Homo sapiens: one gene and its partners. The protein of the gene in region 1 interacts with the protein of each later gene in a pairwise test. Each region holds a gene or a part of one and is shown in the gene's direction. Other genes may lie near its edges. The genes, in order: TTC23, KLHL42, MID2, ZBTB16, BANP, LZTS2 and KIAA1328.

Region 1 (3,500 bases):
GTACAGTGGCTCGATCTCAGCTCACTGCAACCTCTGCCTCCTAGGTTCAAGCGATTCTCCTGCCTCAGCCTCCTGAGTAGCTGGGATTACAGGTGCCCACTACTATGCCCAGCTAATTTTTTGTATTTTTAGTAGAGACAGGGTTTCACCATGTTGGCCAGGCTGGTCTTGAACTCTTGACCTCGTGATTTGCCCACCTCGGCCTCCCAAAGTGCTGGGATTACAGGCGTGAGCCACCACGCCCAGCCCCATGTTACTGATTTTTAATTGTTCTTTATATATTGTGGTTAAAGTCCTTTATCAGATTAATGATTTACAAATATTGTCTCCCATTCTGTGGGTTGTCTTTTAACTTTAATAATAGTGTCTTTTGAAGCAGTAAAGATTTGGATTTGATGAAATCTAATTTATCTTTTTTTTTCTTTTATCACTTATGCTTTTGGTGTTATATCTCAGAAGTCTTTGCCTAACAGGCTGGGCCCTGTGACTCACACCTGTAATCCCAGTATTTTGGGAGGCCAAGTCGGGTGGATCACCTCAGGTCAGGAGCTCGAGAACAGCCTGGCCAACAGGGTGAAACCCCGTCTCTACTAAAATTAGCTGGGCGTGGTGGTAGGCACCTGTAATCCCAGCTGCTTGGGAGGCTGAGTCAGGGAGGCTGAGTCAGGAGAATGTCTTGAACCTGGGAGGTGGAGGTTGCAGTGAGCCGAGATCACGCCACTGCACTCCAGCGAGAGTCTGTCTCAAAAAAAAAAAAAAAAGTTCATGAAGATTTACTCCTATATTTGCAAAGAGTTTTATAGTTTTACCTCTTACTGTTAAGTCTTTACTCCATTTGGAGTTAATTTTTGTATATGGTGTGAGGTGTAGAGATCCAACTTTATTCTTTTCATGTATCTATCCAGTTGTACCAGCACTGTTTATTGTTTATTGAAAAGACTGTTCTCTTCCCATTGAATTATCTTGGCATGCTTGTTAAAAAAAATAATTCACATATATAAGAGTTTATTTTTGGACTCTCAACACTATCCCATTTTTCTATATATTAATTCTTTTTTTTTTTTTTTTGAGATGGAGTCTCGCTCTGTCACCCAGGCTGGAGTATAGTGGTGTGATCTTGGCTCACTGCAACCTCTGCCTCCCAGGTTCAAGCGATTCTCCTGCCTCAGCCTCTCGAGTAGCTGGAATTACAGGTACTTATCACCAAATCTGGCTAAATTTTTTGTATTTCTAGTAGAGACAGCGTTTTGCCATGTTGGCCAGTCTGGTCTCGAACTCCCGACCTCAAGTGATCCGCCCACCTCGGCCTCCCAAAGTGCTGGGATTACAGGCATGAGCCACCACGCCCGGCCTCTATATGTCATTTCTTATGCCAGTACCACCACGTTGTTTTGGGGAGGGCTTTTCCCCAGCTTTATTGAAATATGATTGACAAACTAAAAATTATATACATTTGAGGTAAACATCATGGTGTTTTGATATAAGTGTACCTTTTGTAATGATTCCCACAATAGAGCTAGCTCACACATTCATCACTTGACATAATTACCATTTTTGTGTGTGTGATGAGAACATCTGAGATCTTAACAAATTTCAATTATTTTCTATAGTTACCATGCTGTATATCTCTAGAACTTATTTACCTCATAACTGAAAATTTTTAAGTACAACACTTTTGATTACTTTTACTTTAGTTTTATAGTACATTTTAAAAATGGGAAGTGTGAGTCCTCCAACTTCTTTTTTAAGATTGTTTTATTTATTCTTAGTCTCGTATTTCCATCTTAATTCATCCATAATAAGGATCAACTTGTTAATTTCTGCAAAAAAACAGCTGAGTTTTGATGGATATTACATTAAATCGATACATCAATTTGAGGAGTATTCTATCTTAATATTGAGGCTTTTAATCTATGAACATGGAATGTCCATGTATTTAGATCTTTAATTTCTTTCGATAATGTATGATTTTCATTGTACAAGTCTTGTATTTCTTTTGTTAAATTTATTCCTACATATTTATTCTCTTTATCCTATTTTGAATCAGTGTTTTCTTAATTTTATTTTCAGATTATTTATTGCTGACATATAAAAATACAATTTTATTTATTTATTATGTATCCTATGGCCTTGCCGAACTTATTTAGTCGTTCTAATTGGGGGGGGCGATTTATTTGTTTATTTATTGTGGAATCCTTAGGATTTTCTACATAGAGGGTTATGTCAGCTGATAATAATGTTTTATTTCTCCCTTTCTAATCTTCATGCCTTAATTTATTGTTCTTGCCTGTTGCTCTGACTGTAATATCCACAACTTTGACTACAGGTGGTGAGAGAAATCATTCTTGCCTTGTTTCCAATCTTGGAAAACATTCAAACATGCTCCATTAAGTATGATATTAGCTTTAGGTTTTTGTAAATCAGGATTTTTTGGTTTTGTTTTTTAATTTTTAATTTTTGTGAGTACATAGTAGTAGGTGTATATATTTATGAGATACATGTGATGCTTTGACACAGGCATACAATGTATAGTAATCACATCAGAGTAAGTGGGTATCTGTGTCCTCAAGCACTTATCATTTCTTTGTGTTAGAATTATTCCAATTCTACTCTTTTAGTTATTTTAAAATATACAATAACTTATTGTTGACTGTAGTCACCCTGTTGTGATATCAAGTACTAGATCTTATTCATTCTATCTAACTACGTTTTGTACCCATTAACTATCCCCACTTTTCCCTCCCTGCCCAATACCCTTCCCAGCTTCTGGTAATCATCATTCTACTCTCTGTGTTCATGAGTTCAGTTGTTTTAATTTTTAGCTCTCATAAATGAGTGAGAACATACAAAATTTGTCTCTCTCTGCCTGGTTAATTTCTCTTAGTATAATATCCTTCAGTTTCATCCATGTTGCTGTAAATGACAGGATTTCGTTCTGTTTTGTGTGTATATCTACCACATTTTTTTATCCATTCATGTGTTGATGAACATTTAGGCTGATTCCAAATCTTGGCTGTTGTGGATAGAGCTGCAGTACACATGGGAGTGCAGATATCTCTGATATACTTTTCTTTTGGATATATATGGAGCAGTGGGACTGCTGGATCATATGGTAGTTCTTCTATTTTTAGCTTTTTGAGGAACTTCCATACTGTTCTCCACAGTGGCTGTAATAACTTGCATTCCCACCAACAGTGTATGAGTGTCCCCCTTTGTCCACATCCTCACCAGCATCTGTTACTGCCTTTTTAATAAAAGCCATCTTAACTGGGGTGAGATGACCTCATTGTAGTTTGATTTGCCTTTCTGTGCTGATCAGTGATGTTGAGTATTTTTTCATATACTTGTTGGTTATTTGCATGTCTTTTGAGAAATGTCTATTCAGATCTTTTGCTCACTTTTTAATCAGATTATTAGATTTTTTTTCCTATTGGGTTTTGTTTAAGCTCCTTATATATTCTGGTTATTAATCCCTTGTCAGATGGGTAGTTTACAAATAT
Region 2 (3,500 bases), on another chromosome or scaffold:
TTATCATCTTGACGCTGAGTAGGCTGAGGAGGAAAAGGAGGTAGAGGAAGGGTTGGTTTTGCAGTCTCGGGGTGGCAGAGGCAGAAGAAAATCTGAATGTAAGTGGACCCTCACAGTTCAAACCCGTGTTATTAAAGGATCAGCTGTATAAGTATATTGATAGTGGTTAACAATAGGGGAAAAGTGTTTATGTATATTAATGTGCACGGGGGTGTATCACCTTACACATTTTAAAAATTCTGAAATTGTCTAGGTTGTACTAATTATTATGGCACTTGATATTTCCATTTAACCATATCTGAGAGTTTTTTTTCTGTGTCAACAAATGTAGATCTACCTTATGCTTTTTTATTTTTTTATTTTTTTTGAGACGGAGTCTCGCTCTGTCGCCCAGGCTGGAGTGCAGTGGCGGGATCTCGGCTCACTGCAAGCTCCGCCTCCCGGGTTCACGCCATTCTCCTGCCTCAGCCTCCCGAGGAGCTGGGACTACAGGCGCCCGCTACCACACCCGGCTAATTTTTTTTTGTATTTTTAGTAGAGACGGGGTTTCACTGTGTTAGACAGGATGGTCTCGATCTCCTGACCTCGTGATCCGCCCGCCTCAGCCTCCCAAAGTGCTGGGATTACAGGCGTGAGCCACCGCGCCCGGCCTTACCTCACGCTTTTTAATGGCTGCGTGGCATTCCAGCCTATGGATGTACCATAATGTAATTAGCCCTTCCCTTATTTATGGACATTTAGGTCACTTCCATTTGCATTGGATGTTTCAATAAGCACTGCCATTGAACATCCTGGTAGATGCGTGCATGTATCTTAGTAGCCATATGTGAGTTAGTTTCATATGTCAAATTCGTGGAATCCCTGGATAGGTAGGGCAAAGTGTATGTGTTTTTTTTTTTTGTTTTTGTTTTTTTTTTTTGGGGACGGAGTCTCGTTCTGTTGCCCAGGCTGGAGTACAGTGACGCGATCTCGGCTCACTGCAAGCTCCGCCTCCCAGGTTACGCCATTCTCCTGCCTCAGTTTCCCGAGTAGCTGGGACTACAGGTGCCCGCCACCACGCCTGGCTAATTTTTTTTTTTTTTGTATTTTTAGTAGAGAAGGGGTTTCACCTTGTTAGCCAGCATGGTCTCGATCTCCTGACCTCGTGATCCGCCCACCTAGGCTTCCCAAAGTGCTGGGATTAAGTTGTGAGCCACCGCGCCCAGCTGTGTATGCATGTTTTAAATTTTGTTGAAGCTGGGTGCAATGGTTCACGCTTGTAGTCCCAGCTACTTGGGAGGCTTAGGCAGGAGGATCACTTGAGCCCAGGAACTGAAGGCTGCAGTGCACTCTCATCGGGCCCGTGAATAGCCATTGCACTCCAGCCTGAGCAACATAGTGAGACCTCATCTCTATAAACAGTTAAAAATAAATAAATAAATAGATTTTGGTTGCTCCCGCCAAATTGCCCATCAAAAAAATTGTTCTGATTTCCTCTTCCATCAAAAGTGTTTGTGCTTGCCAGTTCCCTATACTCTTGCCAAGATAGAATATTATCATCTTTTTTTCCCCAAACCTAATGGGCAAAAACACTAGTGTGATTTTTCCCAATTAGAAGAGAGATTATTCTTTTTATATGTTGGTTGGCCATTTGTATTTCTTTTGTAAATGGTCTTTGCCAGTTTCCTAAAAATTGGCTTATTTTCTTCACATTCATTTGAGAAGTTCTATGTGTGAATACAGATATTAATCTCTTGTCTGTTATGTAATGTCGTGCATGTTTTCCCATGCTGTTATTTTTTCTGCAGTGTTCAAAAATAAGATCCCAAAGTGACTGGGTAGGTGAAATTGTTGCATAGAGGGGTGGGTGGGAGTTATGATGAAGCTGAGAGCTATCGCCCCACCAAAAGAGGGCTCCACCTCTCAACCATGGCTGGTTACTTCTACGGGGAAGGGAGGAAATGTTGCCAGACATCCAAATATCCCTTTATTTTTTCTTTTTTAAAGAAATGGGGTCTTGCTTTGTCACCCAGGCTGGAGTACAGTGGTGTGATCATAACTTACTGCAGCCTTCAACTCTTGGGCTCAAGCAATCCTCCTGCTTCAGCCTCCCCAGTAGCTGGGACTACAGGCATGCAACACCATGCTTGGTTAATTTTTTAAAATTAAAATTTTTTCTTTTGTAGAAATGGGGGCTATGTTACCCAGGCTGGTCTTGAACTCCTGGCCTCAGGTAATCCTCCCACTGTGGCCTCCCAAAGTGCTAAGATTACATGCCACCATGCCTGACCCTCCATTATATCTTCTAATTGATTATTGATGCTGTATTGGAAATTGTACCCTTCTTTAGTTCCCTCTGCTTTGACTCAGGTATGACATATCTCCTAGGAGTTCCTTCCCGAACTCTGGCTTGGGCTGAGTGTTCCGTGTCTGCTCCTCTAGCATCTCATGCACATTCCCCGACTTGAATTGAAATTCTCTGTTGTTGTCTCTCTGCCTTCCGATCAGGAACTAGGACTTACTCAATGCTTATGTATAGCCCTACTCCTAACAAGATGTCCAATAATAATAGGTGCTTAAAATACGTGTTTTCTTTAAAAAAAACTATGGAATATATTTTTACATTATTGTAATAAAAGTTAATGTATAATTTTATATTTCGCTTTATTTGTAACACTATAGTGAACATTTTTACCTTGGTAACAGTCATTATATTTATTTAGAGTAGCTGAGAAATAATGAGAGACATCATTTAATTGAACACTTAACTCTGCAGTAGGTACTGTTCCCGCTGCTTTGCATGAATTATCTAACTTATTCTTCACAAGGGCTGTTAGGCAGGTTCCCATTCTAAAGAGACAGAAAGTGAGGCACAGAGAAGTAAATTGCTCAAGGATGTGTAATAAGTACAGCAACCAAAATGTAAATATCCATTGAGTAGTTATAACCACTTAAATTGTTTATAAGTTTTGGATTTTAGACTTGCAGGGACCATCTTCATGCACATTTCCCCCCTTCTTTAAAAAAAATTATTTCCTTCTAAAAAATAGAGCACAGATCTTTTGTGGTACAGTGCTACTTTTCAAAATTTCATCATGTGTGCCTCAGCTCCACGACAGCCTTTAAGCCCAGCATTCTTCTAGTCACTGTTGGATGTACAGAAACTGATGACGTAATTGCTGCCCTCAAGAAGTTTAAAATTGAGTTTAGGTGATGAGACAAGTAAAAATGAAACCTAGCACAGAGTTTTTCCTGGATGAGGCATCCAATACAGGTTATGCATGCACTGGAAGAAATTTGGAACCTTGAGAAAGAAAACCAGATTTTGGCCTCTGGCTATGCAGAATTTCACATCTACTTTGATTCACCTTTGTCGGAGACTGCTTTGGGATGTATCAGTATTTTACTTTGATAAAGGGGTCAAATGTAGAGCAGTTCACTTTTCCCAGGGACTGAATAGTGCAGTGATCCAGAATCTTAAATAGCAGGAACTCTGGGATTGAAAGAGTTTTTTTTTTTTT
Region 3 (3,500 bases), on another chromosome or scaffold:
GTTTGTTTTGTTTGTTTTTTTTTTTTTTGGCAGTCTCACTCTGTCACCCAGGCAAGAGTGCAGTGGCATGATCTCGGCTTACTGCAACCTCCACCTCCCAGGTTCAAGCGATACTTCTGGTTCAGCCTCCCGAGTAGCTGGGACCACAGGCAAGCGCCACCACGCCCAGCTAATTTTTGCATTTTTAGTAGAGACAGGGTTTCACCATATTGGCCAGGAAGGTCTGGACCTCCTAACCTCGTGATCCACCCACCTTGGCCTCCCAAAGTGCTGGGATTACAGGCGTGAGCCACTGTGCCCGGCCGGGTGACCTCTTTTACTCACTGATGCTCACTAAATTGAAGGTTACCAGATCTTAAAATTTCTGGAACTTTGCTAATTTCTATCTAGATATTGATTTGCATCCTGTTATGTTTTAGAAAGTATGAAAAGACACATGGGAGGTGAGCTTCATAGCTGGCTTGTGCTAGTTCAGCAGGTGTTTAGTAATGAAACCAAACTGAAGCCACAAGGCAATATGACTTTATTATTGATCAGCAACTATTGCTGAGTAGGTTGAAAAGTTTGAAATCATTCCCCATTCAGCTTGATGAACTGAAGGGGTTTCTGAAGGTGAGGGAAGAAGATGAAAGTGAAAACTATCATCTTTTATCTCAAGTAACTCAGTTTACTAGGAATAGAATGGAACGGAAATTTCCATGTGTGATAATAAGAAGTAATTCAAGTTCACACTCTGAGGAAAAACTTATTATCCTGCACCAAGGGCTACATTTTTCTAAAGCTCTCTCTTTTTTATGCAGGCTTTCAGAATGGAATCATTTCAGGAAGTAGAGAGTTACTTTAAAATATGGCATTGTTTTCCTTACACTGGATGTCACATAGAAGCAGCCCTACAGTTTACCTTGAAGTGAAATAGAGAACAATATTGGAGAATAGAGATTGGGAATTTTGCAGGGTCTCAGCCTTATCTTAGTCTAGGAAAAGAGATGTCAGTGGAGAATATGTGAGAGAATGATCCATGCAAATATTGTGAGCTGGAATGGTAATGTTAATCAGTCTATCAGGATTCAGAGGTGGCCATTTGGTTTTATCTATTTGTGCATGAAAATAAACATAGGCATTTGTCTAAAACAAGGTTTGAAGGGGAAGAAAGTCTTCCTGATTAGTTCCCAAATTGCTTTTCTATTGCTTAAGCATCTCTGGGGAATCCAGCACGTAAACGCGCCCATTGGTTAGTGTATAATTGTGTTATATCCATTTTCCTTTGGAAATGCCTAATGACTCTTGCTTTGTATTCCTTGCAGGTGAAAGCCCAGCCTCCGTGGTTCTTAATGCCTCAGGAGGACTATTTTCACTAAAGATGGAAACACTGGAGTCTGAATTGACCTGTCCAATCTGCCTAGAGTTGTTTGAAGACCCCCTTCTGCTCCCTTGTGCTCACAGCCTCTGCTTCAGCTGTGCCCATCGCATTTTGGTATCAAGCTGCAGCTCTGGTGAATCCATTGAACCCATTACTGCTTTCCAGTGTCCTACCTGCAGGTATGTTATCTCGCTGAACCACCGGGGCCTGGATGGCCTCAAGAGGAATGTGACTCTGCAGAACATTATTGATCGCTTCCAGAAGGCTTCAGTCAGTGGGCCCAATTCCCCTAGTGAGAGCCGCCGGGAAAGGACTTACAGGCCCACCACTGCCATGTCTAGCGAGCGAATTGCTTGCCAATTCTGTGAGCAGGACCCGCCAAGGGATGCAGTAAAAACATGCATCACCTGTGAGGTCTCCTACTGTGACCGTTGCCTGCGGGCCACGCACCCCAACAAGAAACCTTTCACCAGCCACCGCCTGGTGGAACCAGTGCCAGACACACATCTTCGAGGGATCACCTGCCTGGACCATGAGAATGAGAAAGTGAACATGTACTGTGTATCTGATGACCAATTGATCTGTGCCTTATGCAAACTGGTGGGTCGTCACCGAGACCATCAGGTCGCATCCCTGAATGATCGATTTGAGAAACTCAAGGTAAGGGATCTGGGGAGCATCCCCTATACAACTTTGTCGCATAAATGCAGTTAGCAAGTTCTCTAATAAAATAGGTGACTTTTCCTATATGACAAGTGAGTTAACTTTAAGTTGTTCTCATGAGGAATAACCTGCTCTCCTGCAAGCTCTTCCTGGAGCCTATCTCATCTGTTGCATAAACATTCTTGCAGTCACACACTTCTGGCTAACTTTTGGGGAGTCAGCTCATGGCCTGCAACACCAGTAGTTCATCCAGGGAAACACACCCTCTATCTTCTGTCAGTGACATATTGCTTATTATATATCTTTGCTATGATCTTTCCACCTCTTCTTTTAAGTATGTGAGTACTTGTGTACGTGTACTACAATTAGCATATGTGTCGATTTGCATATGTAGGTATATGGCAATGGGAAGGCAGGGTGTGTCTCTGTGTAGGTGTGGGTGGAGGTGGCTGAGTGTATCTAGGTAGGTGAGAGATTTTTGTGGAGGACATTATTGTATGTTTGTGTTTGTGTACTCAATACACTAAAGAAACAAAAGTTTGGCATTGGCCATTACAAATTGCCATTAAGCCTTTAACATAGGGCTAATTCTAAGCCTGCCTTTAAAAACAAAACAAAACAAAACAAAACAAAGAACTGAAGAAACTTCAGTATACCACGAAATTGGGAGGGATAATTAAATATCTGAATGAACAATTTAAACTGAAGGCAATAAATATTTTATCCAGTATCAAATTTTGTGACAGTGCTCACTATTATGGGCTACAAACTGAAGCATTTGTTTATAGTTCCTGCCTTACAAGTTCCTAGTCATTTATGTGTATTCAATGGACAGAGTTTTCTAAAGTTGTTGTGTCATATAATATGTATGTACAAGTCTAAGTGCCCATAAAAAGTCCTCCTACCTTACACTGATGATCCAGCGAATTGTTTTATTCCCATTGCTTGTCTGCTATGTTGTATAATTTCTCTTAAGAAGGGAGCTACTTAGCAGATATTCTAGAAAAATAAAATGTTTAAACGGATAGTAAAATTACCACTCCAAATAGAACCTGAGTACATAAGCCAAGCTAGAAGAAAGACCCAGATAGGATAAAAGGAGGGCAAGAAGGGAATGGAGATTTTCCTCCTGCCATGCAGTGGATGATTCATTGTAACTTCTGTAAAAAGTATAATGTTGGTGAGAGTAGCAGTACTCAGAATAGGATATATTTGTCCTGTAATTTGTTGCAAATAATATTGAGAGTAGTCACAATGACTATGGTTTGTGCCTCTTTTGGTTATTATTTATACCTGATATGTATAAATGTGTAGCAAATTCAATTTTTTTATTTCACTCAAGTTGATACTCTCATTCATATCAAGGCTGCAGAGGGAAATAATCTTGTTAACTTCAGTTCTTAGACTCATAAGATATTAGGCCTTTGACTTGGTCTAGTCGAAGCGCTCTACTTTAAAGTTGTATAAACAGACCTTG
Region 4 (3,500 bases), on another chromosome or scaffold:
TAAACTCATTTAACATGTGCTCCACTTCATAATTAAATTCCTAAAAATCGGATCAAACAAACTCCTCTGTCTTAACCCTTTGTTTTTTAAATTGTTAGGGACCCCTCTGGAGGGGAAAGGCACAGGCAGCCGCCCCCTTCCCCCCCACCGCCGCCTTCACCCCCACCCGGCTGGGTGGCTGCCGATGTACGTTTTAATTACCGGCTCCAGCTGAAGTCTCACGTGGCCTTGGCTTTATTTATTTATTTATACCTTAATGAGGATACTGAATCTTTGATTAAAGTCGTAATCGTTGCCGATTCAGTAAGGAGGGGGAGTTGGATGTCAGACCAGACAGGGCTGTGAGTGCAGACACACGGAGAGAGTGGGTTCGGGTGCACACACAGACTGGCCCTTACTGTGTTAGACACACAACTAATTAGTACCAGGGTCTGCACAGGCCTCCACTCCCTTGAGTTTGATGGGGCTGGGGGCCAGGCAGTCCGCATGGCTCTGGCAGTGAGGATGGGCAGGTAGCAATTTCCCCAACTGAGAACCCTGGGCCTTGGCCCATCCCCAGATCTGCAGGTGAGGGACTCGCTGGCCGAGCCTCTGAGCCAGTGCAACACCCCATAGATTGGGGTGAACTGGTGTCAAGGCACGATGCCACTCTTTGAGCTTCTCTCATCTGATTCCCTGATGGAAGTGCCCCTCTCATGGCATGGGTGCTTCTTGCAAATCTTCCACCCATGAGAAAGTCACTGATCAGACCCCAGCATCCGCTCCCCTCAGAGCCCTAAAAACCCCTCAGAGCCATCAGAACAGATGAGAATTTATGTGGGTACAGGGGCCTAACTTTGGGAGGGGGGAGCTTTGGTTAGTGGCCCGAGGAGGGGAGAGACAGGAGAGAGTAAAATATCATTTTAAAAAGGAAGTGAAGGCACAGGCATGCGAGTCTATAACGAGAAGGACAATTTATGCCCAGGCACGAGCGCAGTTTGACATGGGGATAATGCAAAAACGTAGGTCATTGTGGATGACTTAAACCTTCAGCAGCTGAAGAAAATGTATGAAATGCAGAGGACATTACACGGTTGGCAGCCCCGCACATCTGCAGAGGGACAAGTGAAATACAGTGGGCCATTCTTTACCATAAACTGTGGTTGTTGGAGATGCAGCCCAGAGAAATTGTAATTACAGTGACAAGACGAATCAGCGATATTTAAATATTCATGAACAAAGTCTGGGGTGATCAATCTATCTTTATTGTCTGCGCCTTCACTCCTGTAATAAATAAGTAGCTGGAGTCCTCACCTTTCATCCCCCAAGCCCCCCACTTTGGATATGAAAGGCAAGATGGTTATTCTCCACACCCCAACCTCTCATGCTCTGGAGATTTAAGAGTGGGATCCTCAAAAAAGAAAAGGCAGTTCTCTCCAAGTTTCATAGACCCACCATTTCCTGGGTCTGTTCTGGATCCTCCCTGTGCGATACACTGAGGCTACAAGGATGGGTGAGGCTTGCTTCTTATCCTGGTGGTGCTTCCATGCTGGAGGTATGGTGGGCAAGCCAGTAGATACAGCATAGTGTGTCAGCAAGCTGACAAGTATATGGTACCCTGACTCTAGAGCCAGACCCAAACCTGAATCCCAACTCAGCTCCTTACTTGCCGTTTCACCTTAGGGATGATGTGGAAGCATCTCATTTTTTTCTCAACTGTAAAATGAGACTAATATCTTTCTTTAAGTTTGTTGCCATGATCATCTGATGCGATCACATCACACATCTGAGTGCTCAGGAAATGTAGCCCATTTTAATGCGAAAGTGGCATAAAAATGATACCACACTAATAACAGAACAAAATTCTGGGCATTTCTTCTCTTTGGGGACACAGAAGAAAGTGTGATTCATTCTGCCTGGGGAACTAAAGGGAAGCGTCCACGCGGGGGTATCATATGAGCTGGGCTTTGAAGGATGATTAGGAGTTCACCAGGGAGAAAAGAAGAAATCGAGCAGAGGAAACAGCTATGTAAGACTGTGGAGGAAGGAAATTGGGGACTGTAGAAGGTGTTTGGGGGACAATGTGAAGTTCCTCAAATTGGAGAGATTTCTTTGAAGGTTGGGGAGTCAGGCTGGAGTGACTTTCACCCTTAACCTAAAGGAAGGGGAGAAGAGGTCATCTGAGAAGCAAGATGGTGAGGTCTCATGTATCCACAAGGGGGCTTGCTTTCTGGGGACTGCTGTCCATCCCTGAACCAAATGGGCTCTCTTTCCCAGGACTGGCCCTTGCCCCACAGATGATCATGGGGCCACAGTAAAGTATGGTCATGTGTGAAGACAGGTATTGCTTGTTTATTCAATGGAGGTGTGGCCGTGGATCCTTAAGTTGTCTTTGGAGGTGGTGAATACAGGCCGTCGCATCCTTCTCATGCACAGAATGTGCCCTACTGTCCCCTGAAGAGGGGGCAGGGAGAGGCAAAGGCCTGATCCAGCCCCTTGTCTCCACAGGCGACCACCCCTACGAGTGTGAGTTCTGTGGCAGCTGCTTCCGGGATGAGAGCACACTCAAGAGCCACAAACGCATCCACACGGGTGAGAAACCCTACGAGTGCAATGGCTGTGGCAAGAAGTTCAGCCTCAAGCATCAGCTGGAGACGCACTATAGGGTGCACACAGGTACCGAAGGCCAGGGAGGGGCCTGAGCTGGCTCTGGGACCTGGGCGGAGGTGGGAAGCAGATAGTCTCCTAGAGAAGCCTAAGTGAGGATGATCCCAGGCTGAATCAAAGAGTAGAAGAGGTTCTATTAAGAGCTGGTATGGTGGCCTGAGGACCACCACACCCCAGTCAAGGTGGCCTGAGGGCCATCAGTCAAGGCCAAGGCAGACATTACTAATCAATCCCAGCACACTTTCCAGTGAGCCCCCATCAGCCCTCCAGGCAGCTATACCAGTAGTTCAGAGGTGACATGCAAAATGATGTCTGTATATGAGTCCTGAATTAGGGGTAAGTTGGTCCAATTAGCTGAAAGTGAAGGTTAGGGTAATTTCATGTTACTCAAGGGTTAGAGTAAGAATTAGGATACATTGAATTAGGTTGTTATGAAGGTTGGGAAGTTGTAAAGTTAGATTGTGTTTGGTTCTGAGATTAGAAGAGCAGATATATTTAATAATCCCTATATGCATATGATGTTTTACCACTTCAGAGTGCCTTCACATTTTTTTTTTTTAGACGGAGTTTCGCTCTTATTGGCCAGGCCGGAGTGCAGTGGCACGATCTCAGTTCACTGCAATCTCTGCCTCCTGGGTTCAAGCGATTCTCCTGCCTCAGCCTCCCAATTACCTGGGATTACAGGTGTGTGCCACCACGCCCAGCTAATTTTGTATTTTTTTTAGTAGAGACAGGGTTTTGCCATGTTGGTCAGGCTGGTCTCGAACTCCTGACCTCAAGTGATTCACCCGCCTCGGCCTCCAAAGTGCTGGGATTACAGGCGTGAGCCACCGTGCCCATCCACATTATTTTTT
Region 5 (3,500 bases), on another chromosome or scaffold:
TTCTGAGTAGTAGCATGATGAAGTCTGGTCGTCCTGCTCTGTCCAGCCCGGGACGTGAGTCGTTCCTTTGTCCAGCATGTCCAAGCTGTGTGGCACATATGGGCGGGAAAAAGCATAGCATATATGGGGTTCAGCACCATCCACAGTTTCTGGCGTCCACGTGGTGGGGGTAGGGGGTGCTTCTTGAAACCCTCATGGATGAGGGGGACTACTGTGAACCAAAAGCTTAATTTAAAGAAGTGACCACAGACTATATTGCACTATTCAGGATTTAGTTATCTTTTTGAATTGTAAACAGATAATCAAGAACAAACATTCCGGAAGATGTTTCTTGTTTCCTTTGCTTTTGATTTTCTTCTGATGCTTCTTGGTGTCTTTTCTTGCTGCGGATCCCACAGGGACACCTCCACATCGCCCAGGTGCCGCAGGGGGAGCAAGTCCAGATCACGCAGGACAGCGAGGTGAGTCAGCTCTCGCTGCAGCACTGTCCCTGCAGGCACCGTGCCCACATGCTCCCGACCTTCATCGGTGTCACAGTGCGAGGGCAGCAGGGAGCCCCCAGGACAGGGAACGTGGGCAAGGGCTGCAGGACTCCGCTTCCAGGGTGCACATAGCGGGCCTGCAGTCTCTGTGGCCTCTCTGCCTCCCCCTCCTGTCCGTTGGTCTCCACAGCTTCTGGTCTGTCTTGGTAAAGATCTCCTGGGTAGATGTTTCTACTGCTGGCTGGAAGTGCCCTCTGAGTACCCTTCTCTCCCTGTCTGGCCCTGCCCTTCCTGCCAGGGGAGGCCCCCAGTGTGGCCGAGATGGGGTCTGCCCCTGCGTAGGTGACCTGACATACCCCCTCACCTGCCATGTGGCCCCAGCTTCCTAGTGGCCTCTACGGGATTAGTGCCGATTTCATGGGATGGTGGGGAATCCCACAAGGTGATGCTGCCAGTCCTGAGAGCTGCTCATAGCCCTTGACGCACCTGCTGGGTCTGTGATTGTCTCAGTTTCTGGAGCTCTACCCGGCCACGCACTCAGAAGTGCGGGCTCAGCTGCTGTTGGGGTCTGGAATGTGAAGGCGGCAGTGACAGTCTGAGTTCTTGGAAAGCCGAGGCCAGCCTGTTGCGATGCTCCATGTTTGCATGCCAGAGCAGGACTGTCTCCCGGGTGACCGTCCTTCGACTCTGGGCTGTTTCCTGCAGCACAGGCAGCAGCAGGCACAGGGCACTAAGCAGCACACACGTGTTGTACTCAGTGACCGTGGTGCGCTCTGGGGGATGAGGAACATGGCTGTTTCTAGGTCGTGACAATGGCACCAGCTTTGTGTTTGGTGCATAGTAGTGTGTCGCTGCAAAGATCTCAGGCTTCCCCACACACACCAGCAGCAGAGACTAGGAAGCCCGGGTGCTGAGGTCAAGGGGACTCATGGAGATGTTGGCGTGCGAGGCCTCCTGGGAGCTCATGCTGGGTGCAGGTGCTGTGGGGGAGCAGAGGAGAGAGAAGCCCTGCCATCGGGGACTCACAGCGGGCGCAGAGCCTCCTGCCCAAGTGCCCGTGAGCAAGACTGTGGACACATGCACGCCGTGGCACGTGGAGCACCAGGGACTCGGGCGTGTCTGCTGGCAGTGGCTTTAATTTGGACACCAGCAGTTCCCGGTGGGTTATCCTGAGAGGGGAGCACATGCGTAAGGGTTCTGAGGGCGGAATGAGGATGAGGTGAAAGGGGAGGAACGAATTCATGTGGGGGCCGTGAGCGACTGGGAATGAGTGGGCTCATCCACACAGCGACATGACCAGGTCACTAAGAAACGTGGTCAGATGGATGGATGGAAGGAAGCAGCAGGGCGGGGAGCAGGTAGGGGACGGTCCCAGGAGGCCAGAGTGTCCAGGAAGGAGCAGGGCCTTCCCTGTTCTGTGTCTGTGGGTGGGTCAGGGACCATCTCCTTGGAGATGTCAGGAGATGCGCCTGTCAGCTCAGCGAGGTCAGGTGCAGGAGTTGGGGGCCTGAGTGGCTGCGAGGTGCAGGATCCCAGCAGCACCTTCCAGTGCAGGAGCTGCCTTTGAGGGGCAGGGGAAGGTTTGCTTCTCAAGGCACAGACAGATGTGGGCTGGGAGGCTAAGCTCACTGCCAAAGAGCTCAGCCAGAGTTCTTGAATACCTGGAAGCCTATGAAGTTCGTCAGAATGCTTAATTTCCTTAGAGTCATTGAAAATGCAGGAAAATTGAAACAGCAGCAAAAGAAAAAAAACAACACACATTTGCTTTTTATAGTTTATGCTAAAAAAATCTTGACTACTCGAATTTCAATTTTTTATTATTAGTTTTATCCATCAGTTTTCAAAACTGAATCCATCTTGTATAGGTGATTGTCTTTCGTTTTCAATAGGAATTGAATGCAGTAAGTTAGAAATTGCTAATAATACTAACGATGGCTTTGTGATGAGTGACAGTATGCAGTCTCGTCACCATACATTCATACCGTGTTCATTTAAAATTATTTTGTTAAAACAGGATATCTGCAAATAAACATTTAGCAGGGTCTGACAGACAACACAGTTCCTTTTTACAACAAATGAAAATGAATTTCTAACTGGAGAGCTCTTAGTAGCTCTGTGGTTGAGTGAGTTGGTTCCTTGCGTGCAGCCCGTGACCTGGCGTGGTGATGCCGCACAGCTCAGCAAGGCGTCCCCCTTCGGGGAAGCTGGGCGACACACACATAGGACGTCTCTCTGCTACTTTCTGTACTTTTTGTGAGTCAGATTCTTTCAAAATAAAAAATGAAGTAAAAATGACATTTTCATTTGGGGTCAGGGTAGGGGAATGAGTACAATGCTTTTTGAGTTGTTTGTTCATCTTTAAAATAATAAATAGTACCTAGAAATGTCAATATTTTGTTTTGGGGCTTTTGTTGCTACTGGAGGTTGAATTTTTGCAGAACTGGGGTTTTCTTGTTATTCTCAAGTGGCCTGTGATGTGTCTTGGCGTGTTTGCCGTGTCTGAGGGTGTCTTGGTGTGTTTCTACTCATGACCGTCTCCTCCTCTCGTTCTTTGTAGGGCAACCTCCAGATCCATCACGTGGGGCAGGACGGTCAGGTGAGTGTCCCAGTCCCCATGCACATGCGGGCGTTGCGCTGCCGAGGGATGGGGTTCTCAGGGGAGGGGGTGGGACGGTCAGGTGAGTGCCCTGGTCCCCATGTACATGTGGGCATTGCGCTGCCGAGGGGTGGGGCTCTCACGGGAGGGGTGGGACGGTCATTGTGGGCATTGCGCTGCCGAGGGGTGGGGCTCTCATGGGAAGGGGGCGGATGGTCAGGTGAGTGCCACAGTCCCCCTCTCACATACAGGCCATGGTGCTGCCAAGGAATGGGGGCTCTCGCGGGAGGGAGCGAGGGTGCAAAGGCCTCTCAGTGTGAGCCCCAGAGCAGGACTGGCTTTCCTCACCATGACAATGCACAGGCCTGGAAGGGGGGAGGGCAGGGCTTGGGGGTTACATTTGCTGCTCCGTAGGATTTCAG
Region 6 (2,763 bases), on another chromosome or scaffold:
GTTCCAGCTGCAGCAGGAGAAGCGGCAATTGCAGGACGACTTCGCACAGCTGCTGCAGGAGCGCGAACAGCTGGAGCGGCGCTGCGCCACCTTGGAGCGGGAGCAGCGGGAGCTCGGGCCGAGGCTTGAGGAGACCAAGTGGGAGGTGGGCCAGACCAGGAGGGGCAGGGAGCAGGGTCACACAGGGAGAAACCCTGGAAAAAGGGGCCCAGCCCCACCCTCCCTCAGCCTGCCACCCCCAGAGGTCCTCCCCTTTCTCACCTCCGTGAGATGAGGTTCCCCTCTGTCCCTTTCTGGGAGGGGGGTCTCCTTGTTGGCCTTGTCTAGTGGCACGTAGCCACGCTTCCAGCCAGTAGTAAGAATGTGGTGCTTGTGGTGTGGAGGCACTATTCTAAGCATGTTACATGGAACAGATCATTTCATCCTTATAACAACACTGAGGGGGCTACCATTAGTCTCCCCATTTTAGAGATGAGTAAACTGAGGCCCATAAAGGCTGAAGCCCCAAATCTGAACCCAGGCAGTCTGGCTCCAATATCTGAGCTCTTAACTAGGTCACTGTAGTACCTCTCCAGCAGGCACCTGGGCACTGCCCTCCATTGTCCCCACTCCTGCAGCACTTGCCAGGACCCAGTCCCCAGTCCCCAGTCCCCAGGGCTTGGTGGTACTTGCAGTGTCTTGTGATGCTTTGAAGACACCAGCTTTGAAGCAAAAAGTTCTAGGTCTGCTTTCCACTTAAGCCCCATCTTAACTGTATGACCTTGGACATGTCACTAGACTTGCTTTAGTGTCTCCATCTGTAAAATGGGGATAAAGATGGACTCTTCTCTCCCAAATGCCCAGCATGATGTGCAGGGCCTGTCCCCCCAGGAGAACCTGTCTCACCATCCTTCCCCACTTCCTCCCACCCCCAGGTGTGCCAGAAATCAGGCGAGATCTCCCTGCTGAAGCAGCAGCTGAAAGAGTCTCAGGCAGAGCTGGTGCAGAAGGGCAGCGAGCTGGTGGCTCTGCGGGTGGCGCTGCGGGAGGCCCGTGCTACGCTGCGGGTCAGTGAGGGCCGTGCGCGGGGTCTACAGGAGGCCGCCCGAGCTCGGGAGCTGGAGCTGGAAGCCTGTTCCCAGGAGCTGCAGCGACACCGCCAGGAAGCTGAGCAGCTGCGGGAGAAAGCTGGGCAGTTGGATGCTGAGGCGGCCGGACTCCGGGAGCCCCCTGTGCCACCTGCCACCGCTGACCCATTCCTCCTGGCAGAGAGTGATGAGGCCAAAGTGCAGCGGGCAGCAGCCGGGGTTGGGGGCAGCTTGCGGGCCCAGGTGGAGCGATTGCGGGTGGAGCTGCAGCGGGAGCGGCGGCGGGGTGAGGAGCAGCGGGACAGCTTTGAGGGGGAGCGGCTGGCCTGGCAGGCAGAGAAGGAGCAGGTGATCCGCTACCAGAAGCAGCTGCAGCACAACTACATCCAGATGTACCGGCGCAACCGGCAGCTAGAGCAGGAGCTGCAGCAGCTCAGCCTGGAGCTGGAGGCCCGGGAGCTCGCTGACCTGGGCCTGGCCGAGCAGGCCCCCTGCATCTGCCTGGAGGAGATCACTGCTACTGAGATCTAGGGCCCTCAGCAACCAGCTCTGTAGGGAGCTCTGCCAGAGGGGCAGCAGCTGCAGATCCACTTAGGCCCCAGGGTCCACGGATGGCCCCAAAGGCTGAGGGCCCCAAAGCCACTTGTCTCCTAGGATCCAGGCCTCTGGGCTTCTGCCAAGAACTCAGGGTGGCCCTATGACTTGGAGGAGCAAGATCAGACCGCTCAAAGGTCCCCGTGTTCACTGTTACCCAGAGGCTCTTGTTACTACCCACTTCATTCCCCACCGCTGCCAGTGCCACTGCCAACCCTGTTCACAGGCGCTTCCAGCCCACTCCAGCCAGGGGAGCAGGGAAGAAGAAGGGGCTCCCTCCTCTTCACATTCCCCCCGACCCCAAAGCCAGAGAAAGCCAGATGGCACCAGCTGCTCCGGATGTGCCTGCCCACATTGGGGGACAGGGCCGGGCCTGGGCTCGGTTCCCAGGTTTGAGCTCTGCAGCCTCTCTCCTGGAGTGAGGGGGCTGAAGTCAGACCAAAGGAAGAACTCAGAAATGTCTTGTTTATTTGTGTTTGTGACCAAGCAGCCTCTCCCTTCACCCAGGTTTATGGCCTCGTTTTCACTTGTATATTTTTCACACTGTAAATTTCTTGTACAAACCCAAAGAAAAAATTAAAAAAAATTTTTTTGTTTAAAAATAATGTGAATGTGCTGGATAAAGAGTACAGGAACTTGTTTGACCCCCCCCCCCCCACCATTTGCTGGCTATTCTCCTCCCCCTCATAGAGCTCTCTTGGGGAGAAAAGGTGATGGAGGAAGGACAAATCCAGTAGAATGTCTGAGGTCTTAGTGGACCCCAACGTGAAATGATCTCTCAGGATTTCAGGGACTAGAAAAGCCTTTCATCCGTTTCCTTGCACAGAATGCTGCTTGGGGTTGAGGAATGGATGCATTGACCCCTTCAGGGCCCTGTCTGAGAGTCTGTGTCCCTGGAGGCTTGGGCGACTCATAAGGGACAGCATGTGAGAAAGTGCCCACCAATCCCAAGCTCCAGACCTTGGCTTTCTCACCCCCTATCCTGGCTTGGGAGGTTGGGGAGCAGTGAGTGCAGGTGACACAGGCTGCCCACTAGCACCTTGTCCTTGGACACTAAGGCAGAGCCTTAATGACAGCTGAGGAGGGAAGAAAGTGGAAAGAT
Region 7 (3,500 bases), on another chromosome or scaffold:
ACCAAAGATCATGCTTAAGCAACATGTAGCAGCAACTTATTTTTCTTATCTTTATATAGATTTACTGAAGGGTAGGTTGTTTGAAAATGGATGTAGCTTTGGGGCACAAGTCTGTTTAGCTGTGTGAATGCTATAATTTAATATTTAAGACAAAACAACAGCTTTGGCTTGGTAAATATATATCACTGATTTCTGAAAAACCAAACGAAAGAACTTGTTTTGTTGTGTTCTTATTTGACAGGTGATCTTGTGGTTCTTTCTAGGTATCCAGTAGAAAAAGCACTCTCCAGTGTTCATCTGTGGAACTGGATGGTTCCTACTTGAGCATAGCCAGACCACAGACCTACTATCAAACCAAGCAAAGACCTAAGTCTGCAGTCCAGGATTCAGCTTCAGAATCCCTTATAGCATTTAGGAATAATTCTTTGAAACCAGTAACCCTTCATCATCCCAAAGATGATCTAGATAAGATACCATCAGAGACCACAACATGTAATTGTGAATCTCCAGGGAGAAAACCTGCAGTCCCAACAGAGAAAATGCCACAAGAAGAATTGCACATGAAGGAATGTCCACATCTTAAGCCTACTCCTAGTCAATGCTGTGGTCATAGACTTGCTGCAGATCGTGTTCATGACAGCCATCCTACAAACATGACCCCTCAACATCCTAAGACACATCCAGAATCATGCAGTTATTGTCGGCTTTCTTGGGCATCTCTGGTGCATGGTGGTGGGGCACTGCAACCCATTGAAACTTTGAAAAAGCAGATCTCAGAAGATAGAAAGCAGCAACTGATGCTTCAGAAAATGGAACTGGAAATTGAAAAGGAGCGCCTTCAGCATCTGCTGGCCCAGCAGGAGACAAAGCTTCTTCTAAAACAGCAGCAGCTTCACCAGTCTCGACTGGATTACAATTGGTGAGTACTGCCTGTTCTTTTTTTTTTTTTTTTGAGACGAAATCTCGCCCTGTTGCCCAGGCTGGAGTGTAGTGGCACAATCTCAGCTCACTGCAGCCTCCGCCTCCCGAGTTCAAGCAGTTCTCTGCCTCAGCCTCCCGAGTAGCTGGGATTACAGGCGCCCGCCACCATGCCCGGCTAATTTTTGTATTTTTAGTAGAGACGGGGTTTCACTGTCTTGGCCAGGCTGGTCTTGAACTCCTGATCTCATGATCCACCCGCCTTGACCTCCCAAAGTGTTGAGATTACAGGCATGAGCTACCGCGCCTGCCCAAGTCCTGCCTGTTCTTTTAGCAATGTCTGTAGTTTGGAGAGCACAGTGTAAAATTGTTGTAATACTATAGCAGATGGGTAGAACCAGAGGTTTTTCTGGATCTTGGCTTACTCGAGATGCATATCAGTTATGTCTACTAAGTAAATTCCCCTTTATTCTTTGGAAGACTTCAAAGATTACCTTGTCTTCCAAATTGATAGCTTAGAATATCTATTTCTGAGCAGTCTGGTGTAATTTTTGCTGGGTTCCAAAGACATTTTAAAATGATCTTGCCATTATGCAGAATCCTTTGCTGTTTGATATCATTGTGGACAATATTAGGCATTAAGTAAAAGCTTGAGATTTCGGGGTGTGGAATTAGATTGTAAAGCAGTGAGATTAGCTGTCATCATTCCGAATTTATGTCTACCCACCATAATATAAAATATAACAAGTGATGGGAGTCTTCTAAATTCAACCCTTTCTGGCCATGAAGCATGACCTGTTGAATGATGAATTCTCATACACCTATCCACATGTAGGCTGTTCTTCCCTTAACAATTCTTCCTAAGAACAGTGCTTCAAAAGATAAATTGCTGTTTTATTATTATATAATGTTTCTTTACTCCACATCCTTGTTGGCATTTGGTATTCTCATTAATTTTTATTTTACCTCTTCTAATACGTGTATAGTGACATTTCATCGCAGTCTTAATTTGCATTTCACTAATGGCTAGTAATGTTGAACATCTTTTTGTGTGTGTGCACGTTTGCCCTCCTATCTTCTTCAGTAAATTCTCTCTTCAGTATTGCCCATATTCTAATTGGATCATTTGGGTGTTTTGCTGTTTGGAGAGTTCTTCATATCTTCTAGATATATGTCTTTTGTCAGATATGTGAATAGCAAATATTTTCTCCCAGTCTGTAACTTGTCTTTTCTTTTTTATCTTTAATTTTTTTTTCTTTTGGTAGAGACAGGCTCTCACTCTGTTGCCCAGGCTGGTCTTGAACTTAAATAATTATCCCACCTCAGCCTCCCAAAGTGCTGGAATTACAGCCACTGCTGGAATTTGAGCCACTGCTCCTGACTCTGCCTTTTTAGTTGCTTAATGAGATCTTTCATAGAGCAGAAATTTTTAATTTTAATGAAGTCCAATTTATCTTTTTTTTCTGTTACGGATTATATAAAGTTTTATCATAGGTGTTGAATTTTGTCAAATACCTTTTATGAATTTTGTCAAATATCTTTTATGATCATGTGATTTGTCTTATTTGCCCTGTTAATATGGTGAATTACATAGATTTTTAAATATTAAACCAGCCTTGCATCCCTGAAATAAACCCCACTTGGTCATAATGTATGATTTTTTAAAATGTTACTGAATTCCATTTACTAATATTTTGTTGAGGATATTTGCATCAGTTTTTTTTTTTTTTTTTGAGACAGAGTCTTGCTCTGTCACCCAGGCTGGAGTGCAGTGGCATGATCTTAGCCCACTACAACCTCCACCTACTGGGTTCAAGGGATTCTCATGCCTCAGCCTCCCAAGTAGCTGGGATTACAGGCGTGAGCCACTGCATCTGGCCTATTTACATTAGTTTTGATGAGGGATATTGTTCTGTTGTTTTCCTTTTTCTTTTTTCCCCTGTGTCCTTGTCTTGTTTCGGTATCAAGGTAATGCAGGCCTCATAAAATGAGTTGGGAGATGTTCGCTCTGCTTCTGCTTTCTGGAAGAGATTGTGTAGAATTGGTGTTAATTCTTCTTTAAATGTTTAGTAGAATTCTCCAGTGAAGCCATCTGGACCTGGAAATTTATTTTTTGAGACTTTTTAAATTCCAAGTTTAATTTCCTTAATACTTACAAGGCTATTCAAATTATCTATTGGATAATCTGCCTTGCCACAGGTTTGTTCATTTTAATTATCTTTCAAATAACTGGGTTTTTGTTTCATTTAGTTTTTGTTATTGTTTTTCTGTTTTCAATTTCATTGATTTCTGCTCTTTATTATTTTCTTCCTTCTGCTTGCTTTAAATTTACTTTGCTCTTCTTTTTTCCTAATTTGTTAAGGTGGAAGCATATTGGTTTGAGACTTTTTCACTTTTCTACTGGAAGCATTTAGTGCTCTAAATTCCCTTCTCGGCACTGATTCAGCTATGTCCCACAAATTTTGATATGTTGCATTTTCATGTTTATCCAATTCAGTGTGTTTTTGGGGTATCTTTTGAAACTTCCTATTTGACCCATGGGTTATTTAGAAGTGTTATATTTAGTTTCCAAGTTCTTAAAG

The links.
Region 2: the proteins of TTC23 (region 1) and KLHL42 interact in binary tests that used the Homo sapiens proteins (3 or more experiments, as listed by UniProt).
Region 3: the proteins of TTC23 (region 1) and MID2 interact in binary tests that used the Homo sapiens proteins (3 or more experiments, as listed by UniProt).
Region 4: the proteins of TTC23 (region 1) and ZBTB16 interact in binary tests that used the Homo sapiens proteins (3 or more experiments, as listed by UniProt).
Region 5: the proteins of TTC23 (region 1) and BANP interact in binary tests that used the Homo sapiens proteins (3 or more experiments, as listed by UniProt).
Region 6: the proteins of TTC23 (region 1) and LZTS2 interact in binary tests that used the Homo sapiens proteins (3 or more experiments, as listed by UniProt).
Region 7: the proteins of TTC23 (region 1) and KIAA1328 interact in binary tests that used the Homo sapiens proteins (3 or more experiments, as listed by UniProt).

What each region holds. Positions count from the first base shown.
Region 1 is NC_000015.10:99,243,082-99,246,581, reverse strand, and holds part of TTC23 (tetratricopeptide repeat protein 23), read left to right. Parts: intron 1-1,071; 5' UTR 1,072-1,193; intron 1,194-3,500. UniProt on the Homo sapiens protein: Participates positively in the ciliary Hedgehog (Hh) signaling.
Region 2 is NC_000012.12:27,783,233-27,786,732, forward strand, and holds part of KLHL42 (kelch-like protein 42), read left to right. Parts: intron 1-3,500. UniProt on the Homo sapiens protein: Substrate-specific adapter of a BCR (BTB-CUL3-RBX1) E3 ubiquitin-protein ligase complex required for mitotic progression and cytokinesis. The BCR(KLHL42) E3 ubiquitin ligase complex mediates the ubiquitination and subsequent degradation of KATNA1.
Region 3 is NC_000023.11:107,839,366-107,842,865, forward strand, and holds part of MID2 (probable E3 ubiquitin-protein ligase MID2), read left to right. Parts: intron 1-1,304; coding exon 1,305-2,020; intron 2,021-3,500. UniProt on the Homo sapiens protein: E3 ubiquitin ligase that plays a role in microtubule stabilization. Mediates the 'Lys-48'-linked polyubiquitination of LRRK2 to drive its localization to microtubules and its proteasomal degradation in neurons.
Region 4 is NC_000011.10:114,244,711-114,248,210, forward strand, and holds part of ZBTB16 (zinc finger and BTB domain-containing protein 16), read left to right. Parts: intron 1-2,487; coding exon 2,488-2,655; intron 2,656-3,500. UniProt on the Homo sapiens protein: Acts as a transcriptional repressor. Transcriptional repression may be mediated through recruitment of histone deacetylases to target promoters. May play a role in myeloid maturation and in the development and/or maintenance of other differentiated tissues.
Region 5 is NC_000016.10:88,034,934-88,038,433, forward strand, and holds part of BANP (protein BANP), read left to right. Parts: intron 1-389; coding exon 390-461; intron 462-3,039; coding exon 3,040-3,078; intron 3,079-3,500. UniProt on the Homo sapiens protein: Controls V(D)J recombination during T-cell development by repressing T-cell receptor (TCR) beta enhancer function. Binds to scaffold/matrix attachment region beta (S/MARbeta), an ATC-rich DNA sequence located upstream of the TCR beta enhancer.
Region 6 is NC_000010.11:101,005,571-101,008,333, forward strand, and holds the end of LZTS2 (leucine zipper putative tumor suppressor 2), read left to right. Parts: coding exon 1-145; intron 146-914; coding exon 915-1,598; 3' UTR 1,599-2,263; downstream 2,264-2,763. UniProt on the Homo sapiens protein: Negative regulator of katanin-mediated microtubule severing and release from the centrosome. Required for central spindle formation and the completion of cytokinesis.
Region 7 is NC_000018.10:37,066,627-37,070,126, forward strand, and holds part of KIAA1328 (protein hinderin), read left to right. Parts: intron 1-241; exon of another isoform or gene 242-263; coding exon 264-919; intron 920-3,500. UniProt on the Homo sapiens protein: Competes with SMC1 for binding to SMC3. May affect the availability of SMC3 to engage in the formation of multimeric protein complexes.